Homo sapiens: one gene and its partner. The protein of the gene in region 2 interacts with the protein of the main gene of each other region in a biochemical or structural test. Each region holds a gene or a part of one and is shown on either strand. Other genes may lie near its edges.

What was found.
Region 1: the proteins of CALCR (region 2) and LRP1 form a complex in vitro, tested with the Homo sapiens proteins (one study listed by BioGRID).

What each region holds. Positions count from the first base shown.
Region 1 is NC_000012.12:57,208,164-57,211,172, forward strand, and holds part of LRP1 (prolow-density lipoprotein receptor-related protein 1 preproprotein), read left to right. Parts: coding exon 1-53; intron 54-547; coding exon 548-654; intron 655-919; coding exon 920-1,036; intron 1,037-1,528; coding exon 1,529-1,705; intron 1,706-1,865; coding exon 1,866-2,006; intron 2,007-2,143; coding exon 2,144-2,317; intron 2,318-2,554; coding exon 2,555-2,716; intron 2,717-3,009. UniProt on the Homo sapiens protein: Endocytic receptor involved in endocytosis and in phagocytosis of apoptotic cells. Required for early embryonic development. Involved in cellular lipid homeostasis.
Region 2 is NC_000007.14:93,428,216-93,432,035, forward strand, and holds part of CALCR (calcitonin receptor isoform 2 precursor), read right to left. Parts: intron 1-3,820. UniProt on the Homo sapiens protein: G protein-coupled receptor activated by ligand peptides amylin (IAPP), calcitonin (CT/CALCA) and calcitonin gene-related peptide type 1 (CGRP1/CALCA).

The DNA of each region.
Region 1 (3,009 bases), on a different chromosome or scaffold from region 2:
ATCTCGGGCATGATTGACGAGCCCCACGCCATTGTGGTGGACCCACTGAGGGGGTGGGCAAGGGCCCTGGGGGGAGGCCTCTGGGCTGGTGGTAGGAAGCCCCCGGGACAGGGTTGGGGGCTGCACCCACATGCGTGCCCTTCCCTCCCAGGCCAGCCTGAGGACAGAGTCCTTTTCAGTCCCTTGGGTCTTCTCGGCCACCCCTGCCTGGCCCTCCCCATGCTGCCTCTGCCCAGGGCCCCCAGCTGGGCCTGCTTGGGCAGGGATCTGACCTCTGCTTGGCCGGCTGTCATGCACAGCCACACTCTGCCCTGGGGAACAGCTCTGCCAGCGTCGGTGGCTCTGAATGAGCACACTGTGGTTTTAGAGGAAAAGCCCCTCAACCTGCTCAGAAGCAGACTCCCGCCTGCTTCTCTGTAGAAGGACAGAATGCCCTCCTCCCAGTCCCCAGCAGTCCCTGTCCCCAGACCAAGAAGCTGGTGTCCTGCCTGGGCCTGCCTCCTCTGGCCCTCCGGCCTGCCCACACTCACCCCTTCTCCCTCCCCAGGACCATGTACTGGTCAGACTGGGGCAACCACCCCAAGATTGAGACGGCAGCGATGGATGGGACGCTTCGGGAGACACTGGTGCAGGACAACATTCAGTGGCCCACAGGTTTGTGGGGCAGGGTGCAGGAGGGACGGGCATGGAGGGGGCCCGGCTCGCAGAGCCCAGCTGCTGCTGAAGTCACACAAAAGCAAGGGATGGGATGGGGCTTGGACTGGGGCAGGGCAGATTGGCCGTGGAGGCTTTTCCCGAAAGAGGTGACTGTGAGTGGCGTATGAACAGGGTGGAGCTGTCCCGGGCATGGAGGCAGTTCTTTCCACCCCGAGCCTGGGTTGGGGAGGCCAAGCTCTCACAGTGCTCTCTCTCTCCCCAGGCCTGGCCGTGGATTATCACAATGAGCGGCTGTACTGGGCAGACGCCAAGCTTTCAGTCATCGGCAGCATCCGGCTCAATGGCACGGACCCCATTGTGGCTGCTGACAGCAAACGAGGTCAGAGCCCGGCATAAGTCGCAGTCCCCAGCCCTGTCCCCAGCCTTGCCATCCTCCCTACTGAGCCAAAGGCCTCACTTCAATGCCTCCCATCCTTTGTCACTGACCCCCAGCAATGCTGCAGCGCCTTCCAGGCCTCTCCAGCTGGCCTCCCCCTGAACCAGCCCTGCAGGCCTGAGACCCACCCTGACCCTCTGGCCTACTTGTCCATTCATTGGTTGGGTTGCACGGAGGCAGCATAGGTACATTAGGAACGTAGCAAATTGGGGGAGAAGGAATAGAAGTCAGTCATGACTGACCCCAGAAGTCTGGGGGTGATGGGACCTTTTGCCAGTAGTGGCCACAGGAGGAGGAACCGGTGTGGGGAGAGAGAATTTGGTCTGGATGTGTTGAGTTTGAGGTGTCTGGGAACCACAGGTGCCAGTGTCGTGGACAGCATGGCCAGGGCCTGAGTGCCCCTCAGGTCCCCTCTGACTCCACCTCCTCCCCCAGGCCTAAGTCACCCCTTCAGCATCGACGTCTTTGAGGATTACATCTATGGTGTCACCTACATCAATAATCGTGTCTTCAAGATCCATAAGTTTGGCCACAGCCCCTTGGTCAACCTGACAGGGGGCCTGAGCCACGCCTCTGACGTGGTCCTTTACCATCAGCACAAGCAGCCCGAAGGTGGGGGCAGAGGGGAGCCTGGGCTGGGGAAGGGAGGCCTGTGGGCATTGAGTCTCCAAGCTGTGGCCCTGGGACCTGGTGGAGAGGGGGTCACCCTGGGCTCACAGGGCTCAGAGAAGGGTCCTGCTCAGCATCCTCCCCACCCCACCCATACCTGCAGTGACCAACCCATGTGACCGCAAGAAATGCGAGTGGCTCTGCCTGCTGAGCCCCAGTGGGCCTGTCTGCACCTGTCCCAATGGGAAGCGGCTGGACAACGGCACATGCGTGCCTGTGCCCTCTCCAACGCCCCCCCCAGATGGTATGCTTATGCCCTCCCAGTCCCAGCCATGCCTCAGGACCATCTCCTTCCTGTGGCTCCTGACTTCCCCTGACCTTGTTGCCTGTCCCTCTCCTCCTATTCCCCTGGCTCTGCCCCTTGACGGGCCCTTCCTGCAGCTCCCCGGCCTGGAACCTGTAACCTGCAGTGCTTCAACGGTGGCAGCTGTTTCCTCAATGCACGGAGGCAGCCCAAGTGCCGCTGCCAACCCCGCTACACGGGTGACAAGTGTGAACTGGACCAGTGCTGGGAGCACTGTCGCAATGGGGGCACCTGTGCTGCCTCCCCCTCTGGTATGCCCCCTCATCCCGCCACGCCTGCTCCTTGCCCCTGGGCCCCAGCCCCGCCACCCACCACCCCACCTCAGGCAAATGCCCAGCCCCTGCCTCGCCTCCAGCCTCCTTTCCACAACCCAGCATCCAGTCACTCCAGTCTCTGCTTCTCGCCCAGGTCCCCCCAGCCCATTCCTCTGCTATAGGGCCAGGTGGTCTCGAGGGCCACAGTCGCGCTCACACATCCTCTCCCACCAGGCATGCCCACGTGCCGGTGCCCCACGGGCTTCACGGGCCCCAAATGCACCCAGCAGGTGTGTGCGGGCTACTGTGCCAACAACAGCACCTGCACTGTCAACCAGGGCAACCAGCCCCAGTGCCGATGCCTACCCGGCTTCCTGGGCGACCGCTGCCAGTACCGTGAGTGAGCCATCCCTGGGCCCCAGGGCATGCGGGAGGGTGACGGGGGACCCCAGAGCATGGGGTGATGTTCAACCTGTGCCTGGGACCCACAGGGGCAAGTTCAGGAAAGAAGGCCTTATGCAGCTGAGCCAGGCCCAAGCTGCTGGCGCTTCCCCACAAAGGTGCTGGCACACTTCCCCTGAGGCAGTGCACCCCCTGCACCAAGATTATGCAAACAGAAAAGCTCTGTTCAACCTATGGAGAGCCCTCATGAGGGTGGGGCTTGAGGCACTTCTCTCCCTCCCCAACCA
Region 2 (3,820 bases):
TAAGTATGTGATTTGTATTAACTTATTTAATCCTCACAACAGCCCTATGGGAAGGGCACTACTATCTTCACTTTATGGATGGGGCACTGAGGTTATGCAATGTGTCCAAAATCATATAGCTAGAATGTGGCAAAGCCACAGTACCAAGCAGAGCCTGGCTTTATTTGGGTGGTACTATTACCGTAGCTTTAAATGCCAGGGTTATAATCTAGGAACCATCAAATGCCCCATTGAGAAACTGGGAAATATACAGGTTCAGCACATTTTTGGAGAAGCAATGTCTCCAGTCAAAGGAAGCTGATAGGCCGGTCGTGGTGGCTCATGCCTGTAATCCCAGCACTTTGGGAGGCCGAGGCGGGCAGATCATGAGATCAGGAGATCGAGACCATCCTGGCTAACACGGTGAAACCCTGTCTCTACTAAAAATACTAAGAATTAGCCGGCGCCTGTAGTCCCAGCTACTCAGGAGGCTGAGGCAGGAGAATGGCATGAACCTGGGAGGCGGAGCTTGCAGTGAGCCGAGATCATGCCACTGCACTCCAGTTTGGGGAACAGAGCGAGACTCCGTCTCAAAAAAAAAAAAAAAAAAAGGAAGCTGATAATTTCCACGGATTCAGCATCTCTTAAATACCAAGATTATCCTTGTAGCTGAAACTTACACAGATATTTACAAGTATCCAAGCAGGCAGTTATGAGTTTAGAGTTAGTTTGCAAAAGTATGCAGCATGAAAAAGAGGTCTTTTATTTCTCACCTGTCCTTTTAAAATAACTCCCATAGAGTATCCATTTATATTAATAAAGTACACAGCCCAGCATGGGGCCAAACGGTTTGATTTCTATTTTAATTTTTAAAAGTTATTATTACAGAAAGGTTCACGGCCTTCTTTAATTGCGTCCAAAATTACAACCCATCCTTTTGTGTGGAGATGGCAATGTGCTTTGATTTGTAAACTATTCATATAATAACAGGCCCTTAGCAGCATAAAAAAGACACTTAAAAAATTATAGACTAATAAGGGCAATTATCTCCTACAATATCACAGGTTGAGTCTGATGCTGCTCTGATGACAAGAATAAGGGCATTTAATCTGAAAAACAAAACAAAACAAAACAGGGAGAGTTTTGTTGCTCCTGAAAATAAATGTTTTCAGTTGTAAGTGGGATAAATGTAACAACAACAAAAAGATTTGAATTATATAAATTCATCACTCACTAAAAAAGCAATACACACTATTCACTTTACTTTTTTTCCTGATTATATCTATTTATGTATTGCCAACTTATAAAAATAGAGCCCTGGCCTCACAGTTTGAAGACTTAACTATTATACCTGGCTCTATTAATAAGCTTTGTAATATTTGGCCTTTGTATATTTAGGCCTCAGTTCCTACATTTGTACAAAACAAAATAAGTTTAGAGTCTTCATGGTTGGATTTGAATGTTTTTGTCTTTTGCCTTTCTTTTCCTGAGTTCATTCTAAGTACCTACTATAGTTATGTACTGCGGAATAGAAGGTGAGGTTTACCTCTGCAGTTTTGATCCAATGAATGCAAAGATTGTAACGCCCACTCCTTCACACTGTCACCACAATCTAACAGACCTGCTGCAACCTGAGCTTGACATTTAAAAATCATGATTAAAAAAAAAAAAACACTTTAAATTCCCTAGAAGTTAAAAAGTAATTGCACACTTTAGACGGTTTTTTTTTTTGTTTGTTTGTTTTTTTGTTTTTTTTTGAGACAGAGTCTTGCTGTCTCCCAGGCTGGAGTGCAGTGGCGCAATCTCGGCTCACTGCAAGCTCCACCTCCCGGGTTCACCCCATTCTTCTGCCTCAGCCTCCCAAGTAGCTGGAACTACAAGGGCCTGCCACCAAGCCCGGCTAATTTTTTTTTTGTATTTTTAGTAGATACGGGGCTTCACTGTGTTAGCCAGGATGGTCTCAATCTCCTGACCTTGTGATCCAGCCGCCTTGGCCTCCCAAAGTGCTGGGATTACAGGCGTGAGCCACCACGCCTGGCCTAGGTGGTTTTATACAACTTCTGAAAGCTAGATTCGTATTAAGCCCTATTAATTAGATGCTAAGGGATACTTGTGAATATTATTTACAAAGTTGTTGTCAACATTCTTTTCAGTCTTTCGGAGGCCATAGCAGCAATATCTCTACTGGTCTCTGATTTTATCTTACAAAATTTATATGCTCTATAATTTGAGTTGAGTACTTGATTATAGAATCAGAGCTTTCTGATTCCCATTCATTATCTCTTTTCTTATGTTTGGGGAAGATTCCTTGCTCTAAAGGGTAACAATACCTAAGTATCATTTATGATAAAGTTAAACTTTTTGAAAACATTCAGCCATTGTATTTCTTAATTTTCTTAAATAAAATTTCCTACATCTCCCCAGTTCATTAAGTCAAGGTCATCCACTGCTTGAAGAACAAGTGTGATTGTGTCTAGAATAGTGGTTCTTAAAGTGAAGTCTCTGGGTCAGCAGCATCAGTATCACCTGGGAACTTGGTTAGAAATGCAAATTCTCAAACCCCACCCCAGACCTACTGAATAGGAAACTGCTGCTGGGGCCAAGCAATCCCTGGTTTCAGAAATCTTCCAGGTGATTCTGATGTACACTCAAGTTTGAGAATACTGGTCTAGAACAAGGAAAATTATTGCTTAGCATTGAGACTCAAAGCTGGCTTTCTTATGTCTCTAGAAAGACATTGTATTGAAAATCAGGCTTTATTGAGTGGGAGAATTTCTAAACAGAAGAAACTTCTCTTTGCATATGTTGTGAAAATCTTACTGGTCTGCAGATAGTGTTTTACTAAAAGCTACAGGGTAGAGAACATGTAGAATATGATATAGGTAGAGACCCTCACAGACAGGAAGGGGAAGTGGTGAGTGCACAGCCCCAAGAGGCCTGAGAGGAAGAGGAGAGAAAGACACACAAATGGCCTTGCATTTCCCTTCGTGGTGGGAGTACCTGGGAAAATGGGCAGAAGAAATCAAGCAAAAGATCATTTGCTTTCTTAGGAACCCTCCATTACATCAAGTTTTTCTTTTTGTTTCGAGAGCACAGTCCTGAAAATAGCCAGCCCTGAAAAGAAACTCCACATTTGCCCCTGGCACCATGTCCAACAGCGGAGCAGCAACGGCTATGGCATGTGCTGAAGATAGATTCACAGGCTCTATGTGGTGTGAAGAAAGGAGCTGGAGTTCCAGGCTCCTCGGGTGGCTTGGCGGAAAGAACTTGTGAATCAGAATAGGGCTGTGGCTTCATCAAGGAGGCCACAGGTGAAAAGACTTCTCGAGGGCTTAGTAGTAAGGGGAACCAGCGTGAACTTCAACAGCAGGTGCTGGCATTAAAACTTGGTAGCCAGTTGCTCTTTTGGACAAAGGCTTTTTGAATTGACTGAATATTTTCTATAAAGAGACTGCTGTAAACCACTAGAGGCTGGTGGAATAGTCTCTTGAAAGCAAGATAAGCTACAGGAAATAAACAAAATTTTAGCTTTTGCACACTCCAATTTGTGACAGTTAAATGGAGATGTTTCTGATCATGCTACTTCCTTCTATAAACTATTTTATCCACGATGTACGGAGAATAGAAAGACACAAGAAAAGGGAGAAAATCTAGTGTGTTGTTAGAACTTTCATTTCTATGCTACTTCTTGGAAACAAATTGTGCATTTTTATAGCTGCAATCATCTTTTTCAGGTCTCTTAGGTACCTAATAATTTACTGATATGTTTGGATAATCAATGTCCACTCACTTGGAAGAGTCATTGTAGGAAATGCTTGATACATAAGCATGCTCTCATGGT